Linked DNA regions of Homo sapiens. The protein of the gene in region 1 interacts with the protein of each later gene in a biochemical or structural test. Each region holds a gene or a part of one and is shown in the gene's direction. Other genes may lie near its edges.

Region 1 (5,363 bases):
GCTCCAGCTCCGGGGAAGTCCATCTCCCAGGGTGGCTCCAGTTCACAGACACGTTTGAGCGCCTGCTGTGTGCTGCGTTCTGCTCCAGGCCAGGCCCCCGGTGGGGACAGGGCAGACATGGCCCCTGCTCCTGTGGAGTTCACTTCCCAGCAAGGCGTGAGAGAGGCACCTAGCTCACATGTGGGACATGTTGGGGGTGTGCCGGCCCGGTGGTGGCCTGGCATAGCTCCCGGCAGCCCCGTAAAGCTGTCTGGATCAGGCACCGATAAGTGAGAAGAAGAGACCCAGAGAAGTCGCCATCAGCCCCAGGGTCACACAGCAGTGGCAGAATTCCTACTAGCCCTGCCCCTCTCCTTCTCCCAAGCGAATGTCCCTAAACACAGCCCCAGCCAGCCTGAGCTGCCCCGTCATTTCCCGACTACAAGCGGACTGGGGGCGTGGCTTCCCCTTAAAAGAAGAGGAAGGAGGCTCAGGCGGGAAGTGACTTGGCCCTGCAGCCGGCCTGGGAGGCTGGGGAGGGACGGGGTAGCTCCTGTCACCCGGTCTGGCTCTTTCCATTGAGTCACCTGCCTCGTCTTGGGCGTGGCCAGGGGAGGAACAGGTTGATTCTCCTCCTCATGCTGAGCTGAGCGGAAAGGCCTGTGACAGGACCTCCTGTTTATGCAGAACCTGGTCTTCAAGGGCGCCAGGGTTAGAAAAACATGTTTAAAAACATGCAGCATCCGAGGTGGGCAGATCACCTGAGGTCAGGAGTTCAAGACCAGCCTGGCCAACATGGCGAAACCCCCGTCTCTACTAAAAATACAAAAATTACCCAGGCGCAGTGGCGTGTGCCTGTAATCCCAGCTACTTGGGAAGCTGAGGCAGGAGGATCCTTTGAACCCAGGAGACGGAGGCTGCAGTGAGCTGAGATCGTGCCACTGCACTCCAGCCTGGGTGACAAAGTGAGACTCTGTCTCAAAAAAACAAAAAACAACAAAAAAAACCCCACACAGTGTCAAATAGAAAGTCTCACCTACTCAGACTGGGGAGACATCAGGAACAGGAAGGCCTGGGGCGGAGACTGGGGTGGGAGCCTGGAGTGCTCTGAAGGAAGCTGGCTCCTTGGGGCAGGCCCTGCCTCTGAACAGCAGCCAACATGTTTTCCATTGAAAAGAATAATAATAGAAAAAGAGAGAGGGAGAAAGAAAACAGCAACCCTGGCAGGAAGAGGGTAGGGCAGGGCAGACAGTGCACCAGGGGAAGTGCTTCCACAGGGCAGAGCTGGGTGCGGGGACCCCCAGATGCGGGCGGCAAACTGGAGACCCCACAGGAGCCGGGACTGGCTTCATTCCTCATTCCCTGCACCTGTGATGGGCAGCAGCGGCCACCGGTGCCCACTGGGCAGTTCCAGGCCGGGCCGAGGGACTGCACCCTTTTGCTGTGGGGAGGGGACCTTTCCTGTTTCATGTCTCGTCTATAAATAGTGAAAGGATGTGGCTTTGCAGAATCGATTGGGCGTCTAGCTTGCCTTCCTCAATAATGCAGCGATGACAGCTCCACACTCAGGACGCCGCTGTTACCCAGCCTCGTAAAAGCCCTGGCAGACGGCCGCCCACCCTCCAGGTGTGCCAGTGCAGTTTTCATCCCCAGCGCACAGGTGGGAAAGCTGTGGCTGCGAGGGCGTGGGGATCTGAGGCAGGCTGGCGTCAGCTTTCACCTTCATGTGCAGGCATATCCAGAACTTTCCGGATCTTTCCCCGGGCTGAGGAGGAAATACCAGCAGCTTTAACGAGCGGCTGGCTTTGGGGCATCACACCTGTGGGCCGGGCTGCGTTTGACGGCCTCGAGTTTCCCAGGCAGCGCTGGCGCTTTCTCCTGTGGGGCCCGGAGCTCCGAGGGGCTGTGAAGCAGGGCTGGCTCTGATTTGCTGTGCTCCCCACACTGTCCCCTCCCTGGGCCTCAGTTTCCCCATCTGTATGTGATTCCCCTTCCAACTACAGCCAGCGGGACCCTGGGGCGGGCTGAAGGCGTGGTGGTGGCTGTGGGCCCTGCGGCGAGGCCTGCGCTGGGCTCGGTGGTCGCCCCAGCTGGGGAAGGGGCAGTGGCTGCAGGGGTGGGAGGGTGGAGGGAAGCCCTTTTCCAAAGTTGCCTGGTTGGGTTCTCCTTGTGGCCCTGCCCCACCCCACCCTGCTCCCTGGGAGCAAAGGGAGCTAAGGACTGGTTTGGGGATGGATATGTATATGGAGGGATTCTGGGTGATGACTTATTCATATTACAAAATTTGCCTTTTTTTGTTTGTTTTTTGAGATGGAGTCTTGCTTTGTCACCCAGACTGGATTAGAGTGACGCAGTCTTGGCTCACTGTAACCTCTGCCTCCCAGATTCACGCGATGCTCCTGAGTAGCTGGGACTACAGGCACATACCACCACTCCCAGCTAATTTTTGTATTCTTAGTAGGGGCAGGGTTTCACCATATTGGTCAGGCTGGTCTCAAACTCCTAACCTCAGGTGATCCACCTGCCTTGGCCTCTCAAAGTGCTGGGATTACAGGCGTGAGCCACTGTGCATGGCCACTTTTTTGTTTTTTGAGATGGGGTCTCACCCTGTCACACAGGCTGGAGTGAAGTGGTGGGATCACGGCTGACTGCAGCCTCAAACTCCTGGGCTCAAGCGATCCTCCTGCCTCCGCCTCCAGAGTAGCTGGGACCACAGGTGTGCACCACCATGCCTAGCTAATTTTAAATTTTTTTGCAGAAGCGGGGTCTTGCTATGTTGTCCAGGCTGAAAATGTGACTTTTGAACTAAAGCATGCTGTTGCTTGACATCTAGTCCATTCACAAGTTCATTCAACCACTATCTAGTTCCGGGACTTTCTCACTGCACAAAACAGAAACTGTACCCAAATACTGTCACTCTGCCCTGACTGCCCCAGCCCCTGGCAACCACTAACCCGCTTTCTGCCTCTGAATTCGCCTCTTCTGGACGTTGCCTATGAATGGAATTGTGCCATAGGTGGTCTTTTGCCCCTGGCTTCTTTCACTGAGCGTGATGTGTTTAAGGTTCATCCATGTCACGCGTGGACTAGAACTGCATTCTTCTGAGGACTACATTTTAGCCTCCAGAAGCATCAGGGACTGGCCAGAGGTGGACCCCAGCATCCCAGCTCCCAGACAGTCCAGAGGAGGCAGGTGTTGGGAGGGCGTCCGGGGTGGCTTCCTGGAAGAGATGGCGCTCACTCTGGGCCGGTGCAGCCACCCGACAGCCACAGAGCCCCCTAGAGGGAGTCCTGGCATATTCCCAGGTGAACCTGTAGGATGGACTGGCGTGCCCGCGGCCCCTGTCCTGCTCAGGACTCCGAGACAGGCTCACAACCTGTCCCTGGGCCTCACTCATGCCAGCCGCCAAGCTGTTCAGCATCCCTTAGCCCCCAGGAGGCACACAGTGGGGCCGCGGTCACTGAGCGTCCACACGCCTGGTGCTGTAAGAATGCAAAGTAGAGGGTCTTTATTGAGCATCTACTACATGCTGAACCCTGGGGTATGGGTGGGCACGGCAGATGCAGGCCCCCCTGGGCAGGGGAGGAGCATGCCCCTTAAGAACCAGGCCACAGGATGGACGGGCTTGGCCACAAGCTAGGGGTAGTCACTGCAGCCTTCATGGCCTCCTGTGTGCAAAGTCAGTGCTGTGGGACCCCATCTGGGTGCACCTGCTGTGGCTTTCAAGTGAGGCCCACCACGGAGCAGCTTCCACGCTGGCTGGGACAGGGTCAGCGGCAGGGAGCTCCAGACCAAAGGAGCGGCGGTGGCTGGGGCAGCGGGGGGCAGTGAGGCTTTGGACACATCCATGGGGCGGGCAGGCATCTCAGCCCCCACCCGCCCAGTCTGCCTGCTCCGGGGCCTTCCCTTCCCTGGACAGAGCTCTGTGTGATTGGCTCCAGGCTGCTTCTCCCCCTGGACCCTCAGGGTCAGCTTAGAGTGACTGGCTATGCCCTGGCCTAGATCCAGGCCCGTGTGACAGGAGAGAGCTAGGAACCTGGCCCCTCACTCTGAGACACAGATGGTGTCCTCTCCAAGTTGCCCTTGGGACGGGGAAGCGCCATGTCCCCTGCAGGGCACCAGGCCAGCCAGTGGCCCTTGACAGCGAGGCCCTGTCTGCAGGCAGCTGGGGGACTTCTCCCTGTCGGGAGGATGCGTGCGTGTTAGCATCGGGGTGCCTGGTTGCCCCAGGGGTGGTGCAGGGCGGTTATAGGCGGTCCTAGCATTTTGGGGTTGCTTTCAGTGTATCTCCGAGACCTGTGGAATTCTGGGAGGAGAAACTCCCCAGCAGTGTCCTCAGTGCGCCCCCCTACCCTGTACCCGTTGCTCCTGGGAGGGATCCTGAGTGCTCCCCCCCACCCACCATGCACCCATTGCCCCAGGAGGGATCCTGAGTGCTCCCCTCTCCACCCACCCTGCACTCATTGCCCCGGGAGGGATCCTGAGTGCTCCCCCCTCCACCCACTCCCACCCTGCACCCATTGCCCCTGGGAGGGATCCTGAGTGATCCCCCCTCCACCCACCCTGCACCCATTGCCCCTGGGAGGGATCCTGAGTGCTCCCCTCTCCACCCACCCTGCACTCATTGCCCCGGGAGGGATCCTGAGTGCTCCCCCCTCCACCCACTCCCACCCTGCACCCATTGCCCCTGGGAGGGATCCTGAGTGCTCCCCCCGACCCACCCTGCACCCATTGCCCCAGGAGGGATCCTGAGTGCTCCCCTCTCCACCCACCCTGCACCCATTGCCCCTGGGAGGGATCCTGAGTGCTCCCCCCTCCACCCACCATGCACCCATTGCCCCGGGAGGGATCCTGAGTGCTCCCCCCTCCACCCACTCCCACCCTGCACCCATTGCCCCTGGGAGGGATCCTGAGTGCTCCCCGCCTACCCTGCACCCATTGCCCCTGGGAGGGAGACTTCTGTAGAGGCCTCACCTCTGAACCCCCCACTCACAGGCTCAGGGGCCCAGGGCTGGGGGCGTCCTGCCGTCTACACTCCAGATTGAGCCCGCACGGTTAAACAGGGCCCTCTCCGCACGCCCTGCCTAATGCAAAGCGGTGGCTTCGGGTGGGTCCCCAAGGGGCCTTGTGAACCCTGGGGGCCTGGCCCCTCCCACCTGGCTGCACCCGCTGGGCGGGAGATCCCATCCTCCGAGTCCTCAGCCCCTCAGCCTCAGCTGCAGCCCAGACACCAGGGCTCTGTGGGGCGGGGGTGGGGCAGCGGTTCCCTCAGGTCTGTGGGGCTGCCCTGCTGTGGTTCCTGCAATTTCCTGGAAGGAGGTCTGGGGCCTGGTGTCCAGTGGGGCCTGTGGGGACGGACTCGGGGGCTCTGTGGGGAGGGACTG
Region 2 (4,431 bases), on another chromosome or scaffold:
CTGTAACAAAGAGGAGGATGCTTGTGTGTCTGAGTATCACTGCAGCTAGAAGCCTGTTAATAACCAGAAGCCCACCCCTCAGTCAATTTGCACTTGAGGAAGAGAAACGTGATACACTGGAATGATGACCATTCTATGATGTTTGTGTCCTAGAATATAGCAGGCTGCTAAGAATCCAGGTCCTCTGTAAGAACACAGATCCTAGACAGGGCATCCTCTTAACTCTCCCAGGAAGCCTGGATAAGACCCACCACATTTCTATTTGCATTTGCCTTTTTTATTATCACCTTTGAGCATCTTGGACCACTTTTCTTTTTTTTTTTTTTTTTTGAGATGGGGTCTGGCTCTGTTGCCTAGGCTGGAGTGCAGTGGCACAATCTCGGCTCGCTGAAGCCTCTGCCTCCCAGGTTCAAGCAATTCTCCCACCTCACCCTCCCAAGTAGCTGGAATTACAGGCGCACCACCACACCCAGCTAATTGTTGTATTTTTAGTAGAGACGGGGTTTCACCATGTTGGCCAGGCTGGTCACGAACTCCTGACCTCAGGTGATCCACCCTCCTCAGCCTCCCAGAGTGCTCAGATGACAGACGTGAGCCACCATGCCCAGCCATCTTGGACCACTTTTTATAACATAACCAAAGACTCGCTTCGTCTTCTTATCAAATGCTTCTTAGGTTGACAGGTTCCTGATGAGATGCTACAACTTCACTGTTACCCAGTATGTAGATGGATTACCACTGGGAAGGTCTCCCATAGACAGTGAATCTCATCCACAGTGTGCCGTTTTTAATAGCTTACACCCCAGAGGGTGGGTTCTTAATTATAAATATGTCATGACTTTTCCAGATGGAGATTTGGGGGTTCCAGATGTTATATTCCTCTGTCCACTAATTATACCTTTGTCTAATTTATCACGTATTTTCACTGACTGGAGTCTAAATTGATCAGCTATACTGCCACCTGTTTACCCCTGTTGGATCATCCAGTTTATCTTTCACCCCCATTAATGCATAGAATTGAATTCTCTAATGGCACATGTCTCTCCACTGCAGCAGGGAGCTATCTCCTGTACAGTTCTCCATAGCCCTAACTGTCCTCTCCCAGGCTATGTACATCATGGGCTTAAACATTGATAGATGAATAACACAGGGAATTCTCATTAATTCAGTCACTTATGTTCTTGGAATAGTTGACACAGTTATAAGTTAAATCTAATTTTTTTCCATAGAAATATTACCTCAAACGTAGCACACAATGGATACTCAACAAATCTTAGGATCTACTCTATTATTTTCTGTGCTGTTGTGGAAATGACCACAAAAATACCACCTATATTTAACTATAAATTATATATTAGTAACTTCCCTATGTATTTCACAAAGTTGTTATTGAGATCAAATGAGATCAAGGATGAAAAGCGTATGATAAACTGAATCATACTACTAATATATAAATGCAAAGTATTAATATGGCATTATACTTAACTGATGTTCTCAATTTTCTTACAAATGTAGCACTAAATTTAGAGCTAGATAGATCTTTAAAGATCCTTGTATCCAAGCTTCCAATTTGAAGTTGATGACACTGAGGTTTTAGGATGCAAAGGTGACTTCTCAGGCCAAACAGATGGTCAGTATAAAAGCTGAGACTAGACCCCAAGGGCCCTAACTTAGACCTCAGTGCTCCATTCCCTACACTGTGCTGCCAATAATTCTTTCCTTGTTTTGCTACAACAAATAAGAAGTAAAAGAGACACCTTAATTAGGGTCTTGGAATTCAGATGAGCTTCCTTGGCCAGAATTGGACAGGCATCTTTAATAAGACTGTTGAGGAGGCTTGGAGATACTTGACTGCTTTTTGGAAAAATGGATCTTTCCGGTGGCTACCTCAGCCCACTCCTGTGGTGATAGGATTTCTCTTTAGCTCATGGTTGCTGAAGGATGCAGTAAGCAGACCCAGATGGAGACATTCTTCTAAGCCTTGACTGGTATAAAGCAGAGTTTGGTGTAGTGAAAAGTACAGACTTTGAAGACTGACCTGAGCGCGAATCTCAGCTCTCCAGTCAAGCCATTGTGTGACCTTCAGCCTGTTCCTTAACCATTAAGAAGAAGAGAAAAAGAGGCAAGGCAGACATTCCTATAGGCCCTCGTTATTTATACTCCTCTTTTTCTTTAAAAATAGAACTCTATTTTAGCTAGACACATGACTACCCAGATTCAAGATGACATTTTTCAGCCTTCATTTCTACTAAGTGCGTCCCCATGACTAAATCCTAGAGAATGGGATGTAAGTGGCAGTGTTGTGGGATGGCTTCTGGGAACCTTCTTTAAGAAAGTGCTTGCAAGTATCCTTTGCTCTCTTCTTCATCCCTTCCTCTATCTTGCCTCCTGGAAACCAAATGCCACTATCAAGGACTATGAGGCAAAGACAAACATGTCAGAACCACCAGGTAGAAAGAGTCTAGGTGTCCAACATTATGGAGTGCTATATCACTCTAGACCACATCCCTAGACATTTATATGAGAGAGAAATACAGTTCAGTCTTGTTGGGAGTTATTATTTTGAGATTTTTGGCACTCACAGCCTAGCAGAAACCAAGAAGGAAAGCTACTAAATTTATTTTGTGATGATAATATAATCTTGATACCAAAAACAGATAGAACAATACAAGCAAAGACAATTATAGGACAATATTGTTTGTATACGTAGATGCTCAAATCCTAAATAAAATATCACCAAACAGACCAGCAATGTATAAAATAAACATCATCTGCTAGTAGAGTTAGTGGTGAATGTACAGGAACGTAATGATAGCCAAACTTTACAAAGTTCATAAATGTAGCTTATTACATTAGCAGAATAAAAGATAAAAGTTCTGCAATGTCAGTAGACACAGAAAAAGTATCTATTAACATTTAACACCTCTCAGGTTAAAAACAAAAATTTTTAACCTCTCAGGTTTTAACCTCTCAGGTTAAAAACAAAAATTTCATTAATCTAGGAATAGAAGGGAACCTCACTTTACCTTGATAAAGGATACAGCAACCATCATTCTTTTTTCATTGTATTTCTTTTAAGTTCTGGGGTACATGTGCAGGATGTGCAGGTTTATTACATAGGTAAATGTGTGCCATGGTAGTTTGCTGCACCTGTCAACCCATCACCTGGGTATTAAACCCAGCATGCACTAGCTCTTTTCCCTAATGCTCTCCACCCCACTACCCTTTCCCAACAGGCCCCAGTGTTGTTCTCCACCCTGTGTCCATGTGTTCCCATTGTTCAGCTCCCACTTATAAGTGGGAACATGGGGTGTTTGGTTTTCTGTTCCTGCAAAACGTAATTCATCACATAAACAGAACTAAAAACAAAAACCACATGACTATCTCAATAGACACAGAAAAGGCCTTCGATAAAATTCAACATCCCTTCATGTTAAAAACTCTAAATAAACTAGGTGTTGAAGGAACATACCTCGAAATAATAAAAGCCATTTATGACAAACCCACAGCCAATATCATACTGAAAAGGCAAAAGCTGGACGCATTCCCCTTGAAAACTGGCACAAGGATGCCCGCTCTCACCACTCTTATTCAACATAATATTGGAAGTTCTGGCCAGGGCAATCAGGCAAGAGAAAGAAATAAAGGGTATTCAAATAGGAAGAGAGGAAGCAACCATCATTCTTTAATGGGGAAAATTTAGAAGCATTCCTAGTGTGGGTTTGGAAAACAGGGCCTTTAGCTTTCATTGAGTGATCAAATGGGTTGGCAACTCAAGGACTGAGAGCACATCTCTGAGGATACCTTGTCACCATAGTTGAAGATGATGATGTGAGTTGTCCTTTTCCCTCCCCTCCCCTTCCCTTCCCTGGGTCATGAGAGTCTTGGCAATCATCAGGTCCATTACTGCCTTTCCATTCCTCATTCATTAGAAGATAATGTCAATCATCTTCTGTTCAAGTTTTTTTTAACTCCTTTGTCAAGCCAGTCATTTCTGCTAGAAACAACGACAGCTACTTTACTGCTTTCTGTGTTTGTAAGACATCTTACAAAGTAGTAGGTAGAGGGGAGACCCATTAAATAGACATTATGGAAATAGTAAAAGCCCTACTATGTATTAAGCATTACTCCAGGCTTTGTACCTGGGGTTACAAAGATGAGTGAGAAGTGCTCTCTACCTCTAAGATACATATGCTGTTGCAAAACGGACTTCATTCTTATGATACATTTCTTGTCTTTGAAACATATACATTGTTAGATAGTAAATGACTAATAAATTCCTAGAATGAATAATCAATTAGCTGGTGCAAAGAATGAGATAGAAGCAGGACTTCTTGAAATGGTGAAGCAATGATAAAATTGAACAAAACTGGACAAAAACCACTGAAGAACCTGGAAGTTAACCAGAAGCACACAACAAAAGGTGAAGGG
Region 3 (5,136 bases), on another chromosome or scaffold:
GAAACTATACACCTAGATACCAACTGAGGTCTTTAAGTGATCTTCAAAAAGGCAATAATTGCCAGCAACTTAGAAGAGTTCACCCATAATGCCAAACCTGTGGAGTCTCTCTCAAATTTATAGGCCATTTTACTCTTCCCACTGATGGGGTTGCAGTCTGTGTAATGCCACCAGTAGGTTTCTTATATTTAGCAACAGCTGTCATTTTAGTTTTAGGAAGTTCAGCTGAATTCTGCTTGATAGATGATGTGTGTGTTTGATTTAACTAAACCAGTAGGCAGTGCTTTTCAGATGCTGGCTAGAGTTCGCTGAGAATTCACTGCTCCCGGGCTTGCAAATTGTCATGGATTGTATGATGTTTGTTTTCTCCACAGAAATTATTCATCAGTTCATTTTGGAACAGCAGAAAGGAAACAGAGTGCCTCTCTGCATCAACCCTCAGTCTGCTGCTTTTAAGAGCTTTATTAGGTAACTATATGTATGTAATTCAACATTCTTGTTAGAATTAAAAGGATGCCAGTGTTACTTCATTATTCAGCATATTTGTTTTTATTTAGATAACATAGATAAAAGGTGCAACAGAAAGTTTCTGTTATGAGGTTTGGCTTTAGTCAAAAGTGTATTAAAACTGTAAGCATCTGGGCTGGGCGCGGTAGCTCATGCCTGTAATCCCAGCACTTTGGGAAGCCAAGGCAGACAGATCACCTGAGGTCTGGAGTTCAAGACCAGCCTGACTAACATGGAGAAACCTTGTTTCTTCTAAAAATACAAAATTAGCCAGGCATGGTGGTGCATGCCTGTAACCCCAGCTACTTGGGAGGCTGAGGCAGGAGAATCACTTGAACCCGGGAGGCAGAGGTTGCGGTGAGCCGAGATCGCACCATTGCACTCCAGCCTAGGCAACAAGAGCGAAACTCCATCTCAAAAAAAAAAACAAAAAACTGTAAGCATCACATTTTACACTGGTGCCAGTTCACTGCGGTTGCTTTGGCAATTTTTTCCCCGGATGACCATTGTGCTGCCTCATCACATATATGGCAGTCCTGCTGCAGCATTAGTATGGTGGCCACCTGTCCTGGAGTTAGACGTGGTCATCTCAGTTCCCACTACCATTCTCACTCCCTAGTAATAACTGCAAGCAAGAAAATAATTTTTTTGTGTGTAGGTGGACTGCTGGTGTAGCCTATTTAGAGGAGAAGTCAAAAGGCATATGGTAGAGCTATGAACCTACATTGGAAGTTACCAGGCTTCATTCTCCTTGTCTGTCTGTCCTTTCCTTCTCTTGATTTCTTTTTCCTTAACTCCTTATATATTGATCAGGGTCTAATCGGGAGAAATAAACCACTTCCCTAGAATACAAACGGGGAAAATTCAGTAATAAGAACTGTTAACTAGGAAAGATGATCAACTGCTAAAAGGCATAAAAGAGGATTCTGAAGGCTGCTGAAGTAGCAAATGCAGAAAGCAGCCACTCCCTGTAGACTGAGGGAGAGTAAACAAGAAAGGAATTAAGAATTTAGAAGAGGTTCCTCATGTAAGGACCTCTTTGGAGAGGGTATGGCTGCCACAGGAACTGGAACACACAGCACGAGGGTGGTGCAGAAGAGGAAGTGTGCCAGAAGGTGTGGCCAGAACTGGTCCATCAAAGACTGCCTGCCAGGAGAGTTCGGGTGGACCAAAGCTGAGCCTTCCACATGACCAAAAACAGGCACAACAAACCAAGGAAGGGAGACTGCTTCCTGATGCTACAGCCTTGCAAATGCCCTTCCAGCACCCTCTGTTGACAAAAGCTAACATTAAGCTAGGTGGCAAAGGGGAACCATGAACAGGGTCTGGCTCCAGTATCACAAAGCAGGACAAAGGGTGGATTCGGATATGAGTGGTCACACAGTCTCTATCTTCCCCGCTGCCTTTCTCCTCTCCTTTTTCTCTCTTCCTGCTGCCCTTTCCCTTTAATCATATTAAAGTTGGTTGGATTTGTTGGACCACAGTCAAGATTTTATGCTTAAAATTTGCAAAATCAGGTGACTTTCATTTCTTCCATGTATTTTTCTATTGGAAGAAGGAATTAAGTTGCACTTTTACTTATCTGTGGTTTTAAATTACTTTGTTTTACTATTTTCCCCTAAGAGTCAGTGACCCAGTCAGTTAGGCAGTTTAGCAGCTTAGGTGCAAATGATCCTGGGCCTTGGGGAAACAAGGGGTTACACTTTTCCCTCTCAAGTTTATAATCTAATTAGCAATCTTAGACATAGGAAAAAGCCAATAACAGATCTAGATCACCAATGCTAAATGATTACCTATACTTCTCCATTAATACTTGATAAAAGAATGCTTATAAGGCCCATTCAAAATAGGCCACTGTATTTTGAGAGGCTACTTTTAAATGGATGATTCTACATCCCTTAAGGTTATTTTCCTGATTGATTATTGAAATTATTACTTGTAATACCTACATTTACTTTACACTTTGAAGTAGGCACTGTGGAAAATACTTCACATCTATTATCATTTATTCATCCCAGTATCCTATGAGGTAAACAGCATTATTTCTTTCCAAATGAGAAGAGATTAAGGCACTTGCTCAGGGCCATACAACTAGTAAATGACATGTGGTTTTCAAGCCTACATATTAGCCACTATACCAGATTGCCTCTCCATAGATAACAGGTCCATAAACAAGCAACTTAGAATAAATTCAACTTCAAAGAAACAAATAAAAATCCAGAAGTGGAATTAATTTTTTCAGAGGAAGAGAGGAAAACAGGAAGTAGTGAATTACCCTTTTGTCCATTGTGACATTACAACTAATTTCTCCATCTCTGTTTTCTTCCAGTTCCACTGTTGCTCAGCCATCTGAGATGCCCCCATCTCCTCTGGTGTGGGAGTGATGGTGGAAGATAATGTACTACTGAAGATGTAATGTAGCTTTCCACTGGAGTCTGGGATTTGCAATTCTGGAGGTTAATCATGCTTGTACTGTAATTTTACTAATGAAGTTTTAAATTAACAACCACTACTTGTATGATATGAATAATATTTAGAAATGTTACTAGACTTTTAATCTTGTAAAGTGGTTGTGCTTTTAGAAGAAAAATATTTTACCCAGAGTTGCACATGTTTTATGAATTTAGTGCAGCTGTTATGGCTCACCTCAGAACAAAAGAGAATTGAACCAAATTTGGGAGTTTGGGGTTTTATGTTTTGTTTTTCTTTTCTAAAATGAAGTGAGATTGTTCACACACACACACACACACACACACACACACAAACACAAAGGACAGTCATACATTTTGATATTTGAGCCATTCCTAAAGATTTGGGGTTTTCTAAAACTAAAGAATCTAGGAACCTTGCCTGCGACCAATCATGGAGCCACGTGAGCTGATCGTGGCTGCACCTGGGGGGAGGGTAGGGAGGAGGGGCATGCCACCTAATGATCAAGCCCTATAATTAGCTTCTCATTAGAGCCGTGATGGTGATGTGTGCTGTCTAAAATCCAATGTTGTGGGTAGAGAGAATGAGTTTGTGACTAGGAGAGACTAAACTTTTGTTTTCCTTACCCAGTATAAATATATATATATATATTTAATCTATTTTTATTAGAAGTTTTTCTGCTCTTTCTTACATAAAAGAACCCCAAGCATGCATCTTTCATGTGTGTAAATAATTCATTTCTGGGCTAATTTCAAAAGAATCCCAATATTGCTGTATAGAAAGAGAACTAGCTTGCACATTTTAGGTCTGTGAAATTTTGTGAGACTTTTCCTGCACTGGACAGTAAAAAAATAATAAAAGACAAAAACAAATTTAAAAAAAAATTTAAGCCACAAAAAAAGGCACATAGGGAATTATGTCAAATGTGTTTGTGTCCTTAGGCAAAGCTGTGGGAGTCTTGAAATGTCACAGTAGTAAATAACTTATTACTTTTTGACAAGTTCTTTTTTTCTGTTGGAACACTGAATTCTTCTGTGCATATGTACATATGAATACAAATCGAAGGCCTCTACCTCCTGGAGTTATACAACTTGGCTTGTTTACCTCCACATGCTGATGATGACTATTTTTTTTTTTTGAGTTCAGTGTGGAGACTTGAAACTTGAATGTCCCTTCCAACTTTTATATTAAAAATAAAAAGACAAGAAAATTGAAGATCATTTTTCACCTGTACAAGGAATACTAATGGATCGTCTTAAAATTGGTCTAGGAAAAAACCTTGGTGTGTGTTATGGACAATTAACTGTTAAAGTTATTGTAAGTTATCTGTATTTAGCAGAGTATTTTCAACTTGAGTGATCTGAGCTGAATTTGAAGACTATTAATAAGTTATGTTTGGAAGTTTTAACTTCAATGAAGTAATTATTTGCTGTGAAAGAAACAAACATTGAATTACTAAACAAAGATGGTGCAATATCTTTGTTTTTTTTTTATGAGGCTCCTGAGAATCAACCCAACTGAAGCATTTCAATTCACTTGAATGAGAAACGTGTTTAGTATCAAAAGAGCCCAAGAAGACACTGGTGTGAAAGGTACAATCTCAGAGGTTGGTCAATTACCGTGGCACACTTTCTGGTCACTTTGTACAATGTAGATTTGAAGTACAGTGGTGAAAACATTAAATGTGACATTTGAAAAAGATGTGTCATCTGTTTTATTTCAGTTTCTTTCCTTTGTTTTCTCTTCAGTACAGCTCGTATCCTGACTTTGCAAAGTTTTGAGACACTTCCTATTTATATTTCCACTTTGATCTTTGAGGAAATTGGTTGTTTTTAAAAATCTTCTCAAAAACTTTAGATTGACAAAAACATATTGAAAATTTAGTTAAATCAATATCAAAGATGTGATTTAAATATACACAATAGAGAAGTCTTTTTAGACCTTGGAGTCTCTAATCCAGTGGTTTTCAAACTTTTTTTTCTTTGAAGCAATATCTTGGAGTCCAATATATTAAATACATAAAAGTAGATTGCTCTGTATGAAGCAGACTGGTAAAGGGACTTGACACCTCCCTCCTCTTCACTTCTGCCTCCTGCCTCTAGCAGCCCAAAGGTACTTTCAGCTAAGGAAGAAGTCCCAGCCCAGTGGTGGTGTAATCAAGGCCTGAAACCAGACTGCCTGACTTCAAAATACTTTCCC
Region 4 (4,000 bases), on another chromosome or scaffold:
GGCTGCTCCCCAGCTCTGGGTCTGCTCAGCGGAGAGGAGCAAATACCACGACCCAGAGGAGAGAGCCTGTGGAGAGGGCACCTTGACAGGGGCAGTAGACTTTGGTCCTGGGATGCAGCTGGCCCGTATCTACCCCTCAGGGAGGGCCTGGGAGAATAGATGCCCTGACCTCACTTTCTGCCCCAAACTCCTGCTGGGCTCCTCTCTGGCTAACCCAAACCAGGCCTGTTGGTGCAGTGTACACTGGTCAGCCTTGGGGCAGAAGCAGGGTAGAGACAGGCAGAGAGTGGGGTTGGAGGGGCAAAGGGAAGACGTCTGGCACACCCCAAGCCACGTCTTCCGGCTGGAGTCCAGTGGCAGTAATGTACATTAAGGTTGATGACTGGACACGGTGGCTCATGCCTGTAATCCTAGCACTTTGGGAGGCCGAGGCGGGAGGATCACCTGAGGTCAAGAGTTCGAGACCAGCCTGACCAACATGGTGAAATCCCATCTCTACTAAGAATACAAAATTAGCCAGGCATGGTGGCTGATGCCTGTAATCCCAGCTACTCAGGAGGCTGAGGCATGAATCTCTTGAACCTGGGAGGCGAAGGTTGCAGTGAGCTGAGATCATGCCATTTCACTTCAGCCTGGGCGACAAGAGCAAAATTCCATCTCAAAAAAACAAACAAACAAAAAAAAAACGGTTGATAGTTATGGACTGGGCAGATGAGGGTTAGAATCTCATTGTGGGACAGGGAAGTTACCTCCATGCTCTTGAGCTTCACTTTCTCTGCCTGTAAGATGGTGCTGATAGTATCCACAGCTGTAGGGCTCTTGTGAGGGCTGAGGGAGGGAACGCAGGGATGGACACAGCAGAGGGCCAGGCCGTGTGTGCTGAGCAACACGGGTGATGCCTCCCATCCCTATGACAAGGCTGAACGGAGGGTGTTGGAAGAGGAGCTGACGGTTCACCTCTCTGTCCCTGGGGACACTATCCTCATCAACAACCGCCCAGGTCCTAGAGAGCCACCCCCGTACCAGGAGCCCCGGCCTCGTGGGAATCCGCCCCACTCCGCTCCCTGTGTCCCCAATGGCTCTGGTAAGACCTGCCTTGTTCCAGTCGCACCTCTGTCCTCTCTGCTGTTTTCTTATTGTATCCCTTTCCCATTCTCTTTTTTTCCTGTCTTCCCCAGTTTCCACTTGTTTTCTTCTTTCTGTGCCCCTGGTTACTGTCTATATCACTCTTTGTCCCTACCATGTAGTCTCTCTCAAGAGTTCCCCATGTATTACCCATAGTCCCCCGTGGTGCTATCTTGTCTGTGTCCCACAGACATCTCTCTATCTTTGTTGTACCCTCTCATTGTGTCTCCCTGGCCCCTTTGCTTTGTATTAGACTCACCATGTTTGTTCCTTCATCTATCCTCCATCACCCATCCTTCCATCCATAGTCATACATCCTTGCATCCATCCATCAATCTTCCATCATCTGTCTTTCTATCTATATTCATAAATCTATTCATCCATCCATCCACCCACCCATATCCATCATCCATCTATCCATCTATATTCACACATCCATCTTTCCATCTGTTATCCATCCATCCAACAAAACATCTGTTTACCATCCATCCATCTATTCATACGTCCCATCTGTCCATGCATTCATTATCCAGCCAGCCGTCCGTCACTCTGCAGATCCTTGTTTTATCCTGTCTGTCTCTTAATGCAATCATCCCATCAGCCCTGGTCTTGCCCTATTCAAGGTCTCCCTGTCTGTCTAGCCTTGAGTCTCATCCCTTCCCCGTGTTTCCCCTCCTCCTTCTCCCGACAGCGTTGCTGCTCTCCAATCCAGCCTACCGCCTCCTTCTGGCCACTTACGCCCGTCCCCCTCGAGGCCCGGGCCCCCCCACACCCGCCTGGGCCAAACCCACCAACACCCAGGGTAAGCCCCTCTGCCCCTGGGCTCCGCCAGGCTCCCCATACCTCTACTGGGGCAGGGAAAAGCCCTCACACCTTGCACTTCCTCCTCTCCCCACTGTGGCCTATTCTGCTCTCCTGAGCTCCCAAGGAGGAAGCTCTTGTGCCCTTAGCTCATCTCTGCTGCTGCTTGCTCTTTTTTAAGGTCCCCCCCTTGAGCTGAGGAGTAGAAAGCTTACTGGTCCCCAGCTCTTCTCCCTCCTCCTCTTCCACGCCATCTCTTCAGCTCTCCAGAGCTAGACAGGAGGTTGCTGTGGTGGCCCCAGACTATAGTAACTCCTCCTTTATTCTCCACTCTCTCTAGAGCTGCGAGGAGGAGGGCTCTCACCCCGGGCGCTTGCCCTTTCCCTCACATGTGTCCTCTCTCTGCAGTCCCAGAGGTGAAGGCTCATGCCCCAACCCTTTCCATCTGCCCCTCTTCTCCTCAGTGTTGCCTTCTCATTGTGGCCCCTTCCCCAGGGCTAAGAGGGGACAGCTCTGCTTCCTCTCCTGTCTGTAGACAACTTGTGTTGGGGCTGTGAGCAGCTGTTACCCTCCCTCCTCTCTGTGTGCCTCTGTCTCTGCTTGTTGTTGAGCTTGGTGTGTTGGGTTGAAAGGGTTGGGAGGGCTTGGCCCCAGGGGGAGCCAGGCTGAAAGCCACGGGAGAGCAGCTAAGTGAAGGGGAGGGAGCTGTGGTGAACGGGACAAGGGTTTGGAAGGTGGAGGGTGCCTGGATGCTGGGACCATCCTGAGGCGGGAGAATTCCTGGGGAGGAATTCTTCTTCCAGCCAAGATTTATCTCACAGTCTCTTGAGAGACCCTAGGGAGGCCCTAAAAGAGTAAGACTTTATGACAGTTTTGCTCAACCATATTCATTGCCTTGAAAAGCTCTGGAATAGCTAACTCTCGTCCCATGCCAGTGTCTTCCTGGTTTGAGGTTGGCGCATGGAATACTGGGAAGATACAGCATAGACCCAGTCTCTCACTCAACCGGGAGACACAGGGCCCTCCGGGAGGCTGAGGTGTGGGGAACTATAGCTCTTGGGCTGTTCCTGATGCCTCGTCCTGTCTTCTTTCCCCTCACCCCTGCAGCCTACAGTGGGGACTATATGGAGCCTGAGAAGCCAGGCGCCCCGCTTCTGCCCCCACCTCCCCAGAACAGCGTCCCCCATTATGCCGAGGCTGACATTGTTACCCTGCAGGGCGTCACCGGGGGCAACACCTATGCTGTGCCTGCACTGCCCCCAGGGGCAGTCGGGGATGGGCCCCCCAGAGTGGATTTCCCTCGATCTCGACTCCGCTTCAAGGAGAAGCTTGGCGAGGGCCAGTTTGGGGAGGTAAGGAGGGTGCCTACCCAGTGTCTGGCCCTATTGTGTGCTCTGATGCCATGCCTGCGCATCCCCCTAGCCAGGAACCTTAGTCATTTGTAACCGTGTTAATCCGTTTGACCCTGTGACCGCCTAGCAAACGAACTTCTTTCTCCAGGTGCACCTGTGTGAGGTCGACAGCCCTCAAGATCTGGTTAGTCTTGATTTCCCCCTTAATGTGCGTAAGGGACACCCTTTGCTGGTAGCTGTCAAGATCTTACGGCCAGATGCCACCAAGAATGCCAGGTGAGGACCAGGGATGGCATCTGGAAGAAGGGAGGGGAGGCCGTGAAGAGTGGGGAGCCATCTAGAGAGAACAATGGCAGAGCCCAACAGAGGGGTGGCATCTCTGGGAGGGGATTTACATGTACGCTGGGGGTGGGGACGCCTGGTCTGCCTGAGGTGGGGCAGGGGGGTGGGGGCGCGGGGGAAGGTGCAGGCCGCCCACTCGGCATTCCTCTTCAGCTTCTCCTTGTTCTCCAGGAATGATTTCCTGAAAGAGGTGAAGATCATGTCGAGGCTCAAGGACCCAAACATCATTCGGCTGCTGGGCGTGTGTGTGCAGGACGACCCCCTCTGCATGATTACTGACTACATGGAGAACGGCGACCTCAACCAGTTCCTCAGTGCCCACCAGCTGGAGGACAAGGCAGCCGAGGGGGCCCCTGGGGACGGGCAGGCTGCGCAGGGGC

Evidence for each region.
Region 2: the proteins of NOTCH1 (region 1) and CASR form a complex in vitro, tested with the Homo sapiens proteins (one study listed by BioGRID).
Region 3: of the proteins of NOTCH1 (region 1) and NLK, one has a biochemical effect on the other in vitro, tested with the Homo sapiens proteins (one study listed by BioGRID).
Region 4: the proteins of NOTCH1 (region 1) and DDR1 form a complex in vitro, tested with the Homo sapiens proteins (one study listed by BioGRID).

Annotation. Positions count from the first base shown.
Region 1 is NC_000009.12:136,535,003-136,540,365, reverse strand, and holds part of NOTCH1 (neurogenic locus notch homolog protein 1 preproprotein), read left to right. Parts: intron 1-5,363. UniProt on the Homo sapiens protein: Functions as a receptor for membrane-bound ligands Jagged-1 (JAG1), Jagged-2 (JAG2) and Delta-1 (DLL1) to regulate cell-fate determination.
Region 2 is NC_000003.12:122,276,737-122,281,167, forward strand, and holds part of CASR (extracellular calcium-sensing receptor isoform 2 precursor), read left to right. Parts: intron 1-4,431. UniProt on the Homo sapiens protein: G-protein-coupled receptor that senses changes in the extracellular concentration of calcium ions and plays a key role in maintaining calcium homeostasis.
Region 3 is NC_000017.11:28,191,746-28,196,881, forward strand, and holds the end of NLK (serine/threonine-protein kinase NLK), read left to right. Parts: intron 1-374; coding exon 375-468; intron 469-2,836; coding exon 2,837-2,891; 3' UTR 2,892-4,636; downstream 4,637-5,136. UniProt on the Homo sapiens protein: Serine/threonine-protein kinase that regulates a number of transcription factors with key roles in cell fate determination. Positive effector of the non-canonical Wnt signaling pathway, acting downstream of WNT5A, MAP3K7/TAK1 and HIPK2.
Region 4 is NC_000006.12:30,893,588-30,897,587, forward strand, and holds part of DDR1 (epithelial discoidin domain-containing receptor 1 isoform 2 precursor), read left to right. Parts: intron 1-918; coding exon 919-1,084; intron 1,085-1,816; coding exon 1,817-1,927; intron 1,928-3,033; coding exon 3,034-3,278; intron 3,279-3,426; coding exon 3,427-3,554; intron 3,555-3,773; coding exon of another isoform or gene 3,774-3,791; coding exon 3,792-4,000. UniProt on the Homo sapiens protein: Tyrosine kinase that functions as a cell surface receptor for fibrillar collagen and regulates cell attachment to the extracellular matrix, remodeling of the extracellular matrix, cell migration, differentiation, survival and cell proliferation.